2 linked regions of the Homo sapiens genome follow. The protein of the gene in region 2 purifies or fractionates together with the protein of the main gene of each other region. This does not show direct contact. Each region holds a gene or a part of one and is shown on either strand. Other genes may lie near its edges.

Region 1 (4,064 bases), on a different chromosome or scaffold from region 2:
TTCTTAGGACATCTATAAATCACCACAAACATTCTGGAAAGCAGTCTTGGAACATCTATCAAAGGCCTTAAAAATTTCTTCTTCTGTGAATTTATCCTCACAAATGACCCCAAGTTTAGACCAAAATAAAAAAATGCTTAAAAGGCTTATTAAAGCATGATTTAAAATAGAAATGATTGCCTAAATTCCTGAAAACAGGGGAATGTCTAAATAAAATATGGTATCTAACATGATAGAAAATGTTTACTAATGTTTAATGATACCAAGAAAGTATCACAATAATAACATCAAGTGGTAATAACAGGAAACAGATCTGTATACAATATAAAACCAACAGTATTGTATATATAAACACCATAGAAGATCTGAAAAAAAATTAGATGACATTATTTGTGATATCTATTTTATTTATTATATTTTTCTGCATACTACTCTACAGTGAGCCTGTCCTTTATAAGAAAAAATGCTAATGATTTATTGTGTATGAAAAAAGTGTATCTGATTTGATTATATATTTTTATTTCCACTTATATTTTCTAGGATTATTTTGCTTTAGAATTCTATGTATAATCCTGTGAAAATTTGTAGTGTTGTAGGGACTGGAAAGATCAGAGATTATGTTATGGCCATGAATGAGGCCTGACCTGCATTGTCAATAACTAAATTGATTATTGTGGAAACAACAAAAAAATTCATTTTTTGAAATGAAAATCTTTATTGAAATAACTATTTTACCATTGTGTGGTCAGATTCACTGCATTTGATGCTTTTTCAGGATTTGTTTTTCCTGCTAGAAATGCTAGAGTTGTCACAGATGTGATATTTATGTTTTCATTGTCTGGGGAGGGCCAAGTTTCATGACAGAGAAAGACTGGGGCCAATTCTGTGATTATGGATGTCAACTTATCTCAGAGCAGTATCATTGGTTGAGCAGTCCTGCAGGACATCTAAGTTTACCGTCTTTATCTTGCCATTGTCAAAGATCCTGGACCTATTTTTTTCTGCCTTGAAAACTTTTGTGCAGTAAAACCAGCAATGGATTTTAGCAGAGTTGATGCATCATTAGGATTTTCACATTAACTCTTTGGACTTAGAGCCATGTCTAAAGTGTCCTTCTTTTGGATATAGTGCCTGGTGCAGAACTCTACCACAAAACATCAGGTGTGCCTCTGAATAGTCTTTGCAAGAAGCACAAAATCCTAGAATTGAGGTGAATTTGTAAGTTCCTCTAGTCCAACCACCTTTCAAATGAAAGAATCCTTCCAAAGCACCCCTGGCCAATAGCTCATCAAGATTTTGCTTAGATATTCTTATTGAGGGGGAACTTACTAACTCCTTTAATTCTTATTTTGCTTAAGGCTGAGTTTTTAAAACATCTAACATCAGCCAAGATTATTGATTTATCTATAAGGAATAATCTGTGAATTAACCTTCTGTAGCTTTTCCTTGCTGACCAGGGAATACCTCCCCATTGAAGCCTAGGCCAGATTCCAGTCCGTTTTGACCATACCCCATCATGGTATTTTAGAGTACACCTGAATAAGATACATGGTGCCATGTACATGGAAACTGACTGCTCTCATGTTACGGGTTGAACTGTGTCCCCCCAAAATTTGTATGTTGAAGTCCTAAAATTGGCACTGTTGCCATAAGCCAGGGAACTACCTAGGAGATGCTAGGAGAGAGGCCTAGAATGGAACCCTCCCTCCCCCGCCCCTGGGGCCTTCAGAGGGAGCGGTGCCCAGCTGACACCTTGACCTTGGACTTCTAGCCTCCAAACTGTGAGACAATACATTTCTGTTGCTTAAGCCACTCAGTTAGTGTGCTTTATTTTGGCAGTCTTAGCAAACTAATACATCCCCCAATCCAGAACTGTCCTCCTTTGGATAATAAAAACAGCAATAATTATAGTGTCATTACCCTGAGTGACTGGTCCCACTGTTGGTCATTCTTTGTAGATGTGAGTTATTGCCCTATTGAGATCAGAAGTCCTCTCACTTAGAGGCATATCTAAGACTTTTTTCTTGTGGAGGGAGCTCACTCAACTGTAGGTAAGGTTTGACTCATCTGGGTTAGTAGTAAGAACAAACTTCCAAGTGGCACCATCTTAAAGGTGCAAGCCCATGTGGGCGATGACCAGGTCTGGTATATTAAGAGGCTCTTGGTAGCACATTAGAAACACCTGGAGAGATTTTAAAATTTACAAAGCCTAGCCAAACCCCAGACCCATTAACCCTGACTCTCTGAGAATAGGACCCTGGCACCTGTGTTTTAAGGATTCTAGGTGATTTCAATGTGTAGCCAAGGTTCACTGCCATAGCCTGTCCTGGAATGCAGGTAACTAAAACTTCAGCAGATTATGAAAAACAAAAGTTACTTTCTTGGATGCATATATTCTTATAGCCTCAAAACTGAAACTGCAAACTGAACAATGCTGCAGTCAGATACACACACATATTTCAACTGCATAACTTCCTTTAATAATACTTTTATTTTTCCAAATTTGAAGACTGTCCCTAAGTCATTTCTTCTAAAAGTTAGTAATAATCCCACCAACTCACATTTACATAGAAGTTACAGTTTAAAGTTTGCATCTCGTAATAACTTGGTGAGATAGGGCAAGCATTATTTCTAATTTGCATATGAGAAAAAACTAAGGCTCGGATGAGTTATGTGACTTCCCTGAGTCATGTTAGAGTAACTAACTCCTGATTTGTAAACTGAAGGTCCCAAATCCTGGGAACTCCCTCAGCTCTGGGCAAGCCAGGACAGGTAGGTCACCCTGCACCTACACAAGGACTGAGCTGAGTTCTAGTTACCTGCTGTGAAGGACTGTAGAGGTTATCTAAGCCAGCTCCTCCTTTTACTGGAAAAGGAAAAGACTGAGATAAGTTTCCAAAACCCCTGCTGGAGCACCTTCTACTTCTAGAAAGATGTTGAGGGGCTTCCAGGGCACAAAGGAAAGAGAAGTAACTGTGTCTCCTTCCCCAACCATGTATGTGATACATTCATTCTCTAGGATTGGAAATTCCCAGAAAGCTGTGTCAGCAATGAGATTTGTTTCATTGTTTTGCCTTGTTTTGTCATTGAGTTGTTATAGTTAAAGTTTATTATTTTTTAATGCAGAAAAAAGTGACTTTTGGGGGAGTGCAGAGTTCTATGAATTTTTAACACATGTCTAGTTATTTGACCACAACCGTAATCAAGATACAGAACAGTTTTATCATTTCAAGTGCTCTCCTGCTATGCTTTTATAACACACCCTTCCCCACCCCAACTCCTGGCAATTACTGCTCTATTCTCCGTAACTGTAGTTTTGCCTTTTCGAGAATATCATATAAATAATCATGTATTATGTAACATTCTGAGACAGGCTTCTTTCACCCAGCATAATGCCTTTGAGATTCATCCAGATCGTTGTGTGTATCAGTAGTTTGTTTTTATTACTGGGTTATAGTTCATTGTATGGATATACCACAGTTTCTTTAGCCATTCACCCACTGAAAGTCATTTGGGTTGTTTCTAGGCTTTGGTGATTATGAATAAAGCTGCTATCAACATCCACGTATTGGTTTTTGTGTGAACATAAGTATTCATTTCTCTAGATGAAATACCCACAAGTAGGATTTCTTGATTTTGTGATATATATGTTTTCTATTGTTGCCCTTTAAAATTACATGAATTTAGTGACTTAAGCATTACAAATTTATTATCTTACAGTTTTGTAGGTCAGAAAGGTCTTAATGGGCTAAATTCAAATTATCAGCAGGGTTGTATTTCTTTCTGGTGGCCGTCAGAGAGAATCCATTTAGGTTCAGTTCCTTGAGGTCATAGAACTTGCCTTTTGACCCCCTTTATCCACCTGCAAAGCCAGCAATGGCCAGTCAAGTCCAGTCCCTTCATGTACATCTCTTTCTAACCCTTCTCTCATCCTCTCTGAACTTTCTTCCATTGTCATATCTCTCTCTCTGACCCAACCATGAAAGGTTATCTGCTTCTAAGAATTCTTGCTTAGATTGGGTTCACCATGATAAAATTCAGGATAATTTCACCATTTCAAAGTT
Region 2 (5,966 bases):
GAATGCCAGAGGCCTCTCTCTCTGCAGGACAGCTCTGCTTTTCCACCTCAAGGCTCTCTTCATAAGCTGGAGGGTAAAAGTCTGGCCTAGGGGACAAAACAGCATAAACATGCGTGCGTTATTTAGGCATTAATGCCAAAGAGGCAGACGGCTGCCTCTCTCAGCTCAAATTGTGCGAAGCTAAACTGTTAAGAAACATGGATTTTTGAAACAGATGTACTTCTTCCTGGCATCACCAGTTTTTTAAAAATGTGCTGCTCTTCCAAAAGAACCTTTTTATCAGCCACAGGATGCCTGCCTCTAGTCACATTTTTTTCCCAGTGGGTTATGCCAAGCTATTCCTTCTCTATTGCTCATTCACTCATGAAAACAGGGCCATTCAGTGTGAGATCCTTGTCAACATTAGAGGAGGTGGGGGCTTTGGATAGGGAACTTCTCTCTACCGAGTACTTAGTCCATCCACATCCTTGCTCCCTTTCTCGCATGGCATCATCCCCTCAATTGCACTCACTTTCTCTGATCATCACAGCCAACAAAATAATGAATGAAAACCAACTCTGTGCTGATCCCTGAACTATACCAGATGCCATGTCTCTATCCTAACACCCTTTCGAGACTCAGTAGCTAGTTTCAAAGAAAATATACAAACATATTCATTTCTCAAATGATATCAACTGACAACTTTACACAGATTTCAGTTGTAGCCCTTTCTATGCCAGTAGGCTAAAGCAGCCATTCATTCGGGGGCTGATGTACTCATTGGTCATCTTGCCTGGCATTTCTAATTGCTAAATCCTCCTGGCTTCTCCATCATGAATGAATTTGGGGGAAGGGGAGAGGGGAGGAAGAGAGACCGGTGAGCTTGGCTGAGTTGTGTATTTATAGAGTGATCCTTCCAGTGCCTACAGGGAGTGTTTATGGTGTGTAACCACAACAGAACAGGGACTGCCATTTGTAGCCACAACTCCATTCCAAATGTTACCAGGCCCAAAGCCAGTAGCTGAAGAAGCTGTCTACTATAAGGCATAAATCTCAGCCTTCGCTCAGAATAGCCAAGGCTGAGTCACGGGGCACATGTGTAAAGGCATTTTACACAGAAAGGTGAGATGTTCCCTGGAGTGATGTGAAAGGTTCCAGGATGACTGCTGCCTGCCCCAAATCCCAGCTACCTCTCCCAACCCCACCCTCCTTCAACTGCCATCCATATTCCCAGTCCCCTGAATTCCATCATCGGAGACCCATTTGCTTTGATATCTCAACCTGGGTATCCATTTTGAGTGCAAATGCTTTGGAGAAATGTGACTTCCCAGGCTGACTTGCCAGCCATTCTGCGTGGGATAAGCATCTTATTACATGCAGCGAGAAGAGGCAGTAAAATGGGGGTGTTACGATGTCCATAATTTACTTTCAAACATTTCAGTATACTGTAATATTATGCAGTGTTAGTCAATTTAAGCTATATCCTAAAGGCAATCAGTTACATTTATCAGAAATTCACACTCTAGAGGTAGTCCTCTAACATTTATACAAAAAGAAATCATCACTCTAGAGGCATCTTCTACAATCACTTCATTTCTCTTAATTTTTAATCAAACCCAGAAACTCTGCTGGTTAGTATAACATTGGAAATAAGTTTTGGTTTTCATAATTATTATCTTATTAATTAGCATAAAGGATGCCAAAAGTGGATGCTCATGGGTAAGATTACTTATATTCAAGATACATGGAGTAGCTAAAATATTTTAGATACTTTCTACTCTTGCACGAAGAGGGCAAAATAATTATAGTCTTGTAGCCTGTATCTTGAGAATGATGCCTAGGGTGTTATCCCTAAATGGTCCTGTGGCTAGCCAAGAATTAGGAGGTTTCTTGTTGCCTGATACTGACTATAAGATTAACTGAATCTTTTTTTTCTTGTGGTAAAATATATATGACATAAAATTTACTGTTTTTAAGTGTATAGCTCAGTGGCACTAAATACACTCATATTGCTCTACAACCATCACCTTAAAACTCTCTACTCATTAAACAATAGGTCCCCAGTCTCTCCTTCCACCAGCCCCTGGGACCACTGTTCTACTTTCTGTGTCTGTGAATTTGACTACGCTAAGTACTCATGTAAGTGGAATTATACAATATTTGCCCTTTGTAACTGACTTGTTTCACTTAGCATAATGTTTTCAACTTCATCCAAGTGGTGGCATGTGCCAGGATTTCCTTCCTTTTTAAGGCTAATATTCCATTGCATGTATATACCACATTTTGTTTATCTACTCACCTGTTGATGGACATTTGGGCTATTATGAATAAATGTTGCTACAAGCATTGGTGTACAAACATCCATTTGAATCCCTGCTTTCAGTTCCTTTGTGTATAAACTCAGAATGTAGAATTGCCAGATCAAACAGTAATTCAATATTTAATGTATAGAGGAGTCTCCACACTGTTTTCCACAGTGGTTGCACCATTTTAACATTCCCACCAGCAATGCACAGCGTTCCAATTTATTGACATCCTCACCAACACTAGCTGTTTGGTTTTGTTTTTTGATGATAACTATCCTAATGTATGAGATGGCGAGAAAGAATGAATCTTGCCTCTAGAATATTATCACCTTCCCCTGAAGGAATGTTTTATGCAAGGTGAGATCACAACACCTAAAAGGACAGTAAACTGGGACTTTTCTGAGCTCACAGAGATTCCAGGACTCATTTTATGCCTGCTTCTTCATTTGTTGTGTGGCAGAATTTGGTCTGGGACTTGCTTTCCTTAGAACCTCATAGCCAGGTTATGGGAAGTAACTAACCATCACCTGCCACTAATTAATGACAGCTGCCATGATATAACAAAAGAGCCTGGGTTTCTAAATTGGCTTAGGTGGGTTTTCACTGGGGGTGGTGGTAGGGTTTCTCTGAGATGAGTTGCCCCTGCGTCATGGTTTTCCCCAAAGATGGCGCCACTCTTCCTAATAACAACCCCAGAGTAATTCCCTGACAATAAAGCTTTGGTTCTAGACAGACAGCCCATGGGACATGTAAGTCGCTCCATAGTAGGATCAGAAATTACTCAGATCTTACACAACTCAGCCCATCTCAGCCCTTCTTGGTCCCTCTGCCTGTCAGCACGTACCTGTCTACTGTGGCCACGGGCAGGGCCCCATGAGCAAGGTGTTGTCGGAGCATGTGCCTCAACACTCCTTTGCTTTCAGTCACCTGGCGATAGTTGCTCCAGAAAATTCCACTCAGAAGGATCACAAACCCCAGAGGCAGAAGCAAATAGGCCGCAATCAGGCTCCCCTGACAGTCGAATATGGAGCCCCAGGAAATGAAGAAGGCCCCCAGGCAGACCATCAGGAAACCCATCAGGAGGGCAAGAGCACAGAGAATGAGGCCAGTTCTGTTCTGCATCCTTGCACCTTAGGAACCCAGCACCCTGACCCTGCTGCTCCTCTGCTTCCCTGCTTGCTCCAAGAGAATGAGCTCATTAGCCAGCTTGCAGCTTTATATGCTCTGGGACCCACTGGCCTTTGGACAACTAAATGAAACAGGCACTTAGAAGCTATTCATTAACCATTGAAAGTAAGTGTAATATCCTTGGAGAATTAGCCAAAAAACATAGCATTGTATACTGCAGGCAGGAGTGGCTTCGTGTAGCTGTTTTGTTCTTCAGAGTTGGGTGGGACACTCAGCTGTTCCCAGTTATTTGAACGTACAGCCCTCCTTTGATTAAAAGGCGCTGGTCTCTTAATCCCCATGGAGGGCAATTCCCCACTAAAAGCTGGAGAAGTTAGCACTCTTTAAAGAACGATCTTCTTTGAGGTTTGGTAAGAAATCCCTTCCTGATTCCTTCTCCCTTTTTCTGTACTAAAAAGGCATTTCTTCAAGGCTGTTAACATGTTTGTCTTGCCTCCCTCAATGAATCCCCACTTATTGCCCCCACACTATGATACTGGCATAATTCCAAGACAGAAGTTCAGAGTGTGAACTTCGTGGTTCCTGCTCTGTTGACAAGATCGAAAGAGCCTGAGTGGGAGGGAAAGGAGAGTGCTGGAGAAAAGGACTATAATAGACAGAGCCTCGGGAATTTGGGGGGATTTTGGGCCTGTAATTCCTGCAATCTTTCCCCCTTTCATAAAGTACATATGAAATAGAATTCGTTTTAGAGGATGCTGCTAAAAATGTTCCCTGTCCTCTCCTCCACACCTCTGCTCTATGTAGCATTGCCTCAAAAAATCTTTCCAGAACCAGCCTTCTGTTTCCTGGCTGGAATTTGTTTTCTTTAGCTTGACTGTCTTTGATTGTGGATAGCTTATTTCAGACGTGCTTTATGCCCTGGCTCTGCCCTTTTTTATTTGATAATGTGGCATGTCTCTGCCAAAAGTCTCCTTCCCATAGGAACCCTGGGTTGCTTTTACTCAGGATAGCTTATCTTCAGTTCCTCTTTGCTGCTGTTCCACTCCACTACTCCATTACCATTATTTTCCATTTACTTTCCCAATGAGAGCAGCAGTTTTTTGTGGCGTGCCCTAATAATCCCTCATATAACCTTTAGTCTCACACTCACCATCTCCTTAGCTCTACCTTCATGTTAGGGCTGGGAGACACGGATATTAGAGAGGTACACACTATGGATCAAAAACTATATAAGGCACTTCTCCATTCCAACCCTTAGCCTTTACCTTTCTTAGCTTCAATTTCGACCTTGAACTACCTTGATCTTCTAGTCTTGATATTGTCTTTGTAATCTTAAAACAGCTCTTATTCCCTCCTTCCCCAAACTGTGAGATGGAATATTTCTAAGATGATCCCTAAGGATCCCACCTCCTGATATTCATGTCCTTGTGTAAGTAATCCTCTCCCCTGAGTGTAGGCTGGACCTAGTGACTTCATTCTAATCAATAGAATATGGTAACGGTGATCGGAAGTTACTTCCGTGGAGGCTACACAAGATTGTGGTTTTCATCTTTCTAGCAGACTCTCTCTATTGTCCTCTTGGCTTACGCCCTTTGAAGAAGGAAGCTGCCATATTGGAGAGGCCCATGAGGCAAGGAATTGAGGGCAGGTTCTGGCCAACAGTCACTGAAGAACTGAGGCCCTTAGTCCGTCAGCCCATGAGGAACTGCATCCTGTCAATGACCACGTGAGCTTGCAATCAAATCCTCATCCCACTGAGCCTTGAGATGACTCTGCTCCCAAGCATCACCTTGACTCAGTGACCCTGAAGTAGAGGACCCAGGTAAGTCATACTCGGATTCCTGACCCACAGAAACTGTGAGATAAAACGTTTCAGCCAGGGTCCTGGATGCCACAAGATGGCAAGAGCCATAATCAATGAATGCATTATGATCAAATCATTTCATGTTTATGGATGTCACTATTTTAACAAATAAAAGAGGTCAAAAGTTTAAAAAAAGTATATTTTAAAAATATGCTAAGTTTTGTGGCCATTTTTTAGATAGCAGTAGATAACTAAAAAAATTCTCTTAGAACTTTGAAAATCAGAAGAGACAATCAATGTTAAGTATTTATCATAGTACCTGGCACAGAGAGTGCCCTGTGAAGGTTATCTATAATCACCATCACCAATATTGTTATTATCATTGCTGTTACAATTCCAAAAATCTGTGGAAGACCCAGGACCCCCAGCTGAAAGGTCTGCACTAGGAGTTGGGTCCCAGGAACAGGTAGATGGTAAAGCCCCAGGATAATGTTAAGAATCAGGTGATGGAGGAAGAGTACTCTCAATCGGAACTGCCCATCAGACAGTTGGGCTTCTCTGTTTTAGACAAAAATGGAGGCAGAAATTAGACTGGGGATTATGACAGGTCAGGCCTCATTCTTGTGATCACATCAACACATGAGTAAATAAGTTTCTCTATACTTTTTCCTCCTCCATGCCAATAAAGTACACTAGAACCATTGCCTTATAGTTTGTCAGACAGTTCCTTCCCCTCCAGTGCCCTTTGA

What was found.
Region 1: the proteins of TMEM252 (region 2) and STXBP4 purify together in Homo sapiens (affinity purification with mass spectrometry; one large-scale study listed by BioGRID and IntAct). This does not show direct contact.

Annotation. Positions count from the first base shown.
Region 1 is NC_000017.11:55,170,069-55,174,132, forward strand, and holds the end of STXBP4 (syntaxin-binding protein 4), read left to right. Parts: 3' UTR 1-3,564; downstream 3,565-4,064. UniProt on the Homo sapiens protein: Plays a role in the translocation of transport vesicles from the cytoplasm to the plasma membrane. Inhibits the translocation of SLC2A4 from intracellular vesicles to the plasma membrane by STX4A binding and preventing the interaction between STX4A and VAMP2.
Region 2 is NC_000009.12:68,537,408-68,543,373, forward strand, and holds the start of TMEM252 (transmembrane protein 252), read right to left. Parts: upstream 3,477-5,966; 5' UTR 3,408-3,476; coding exon 3,130-3,407; intron 87-3,129; coding exon 1-86.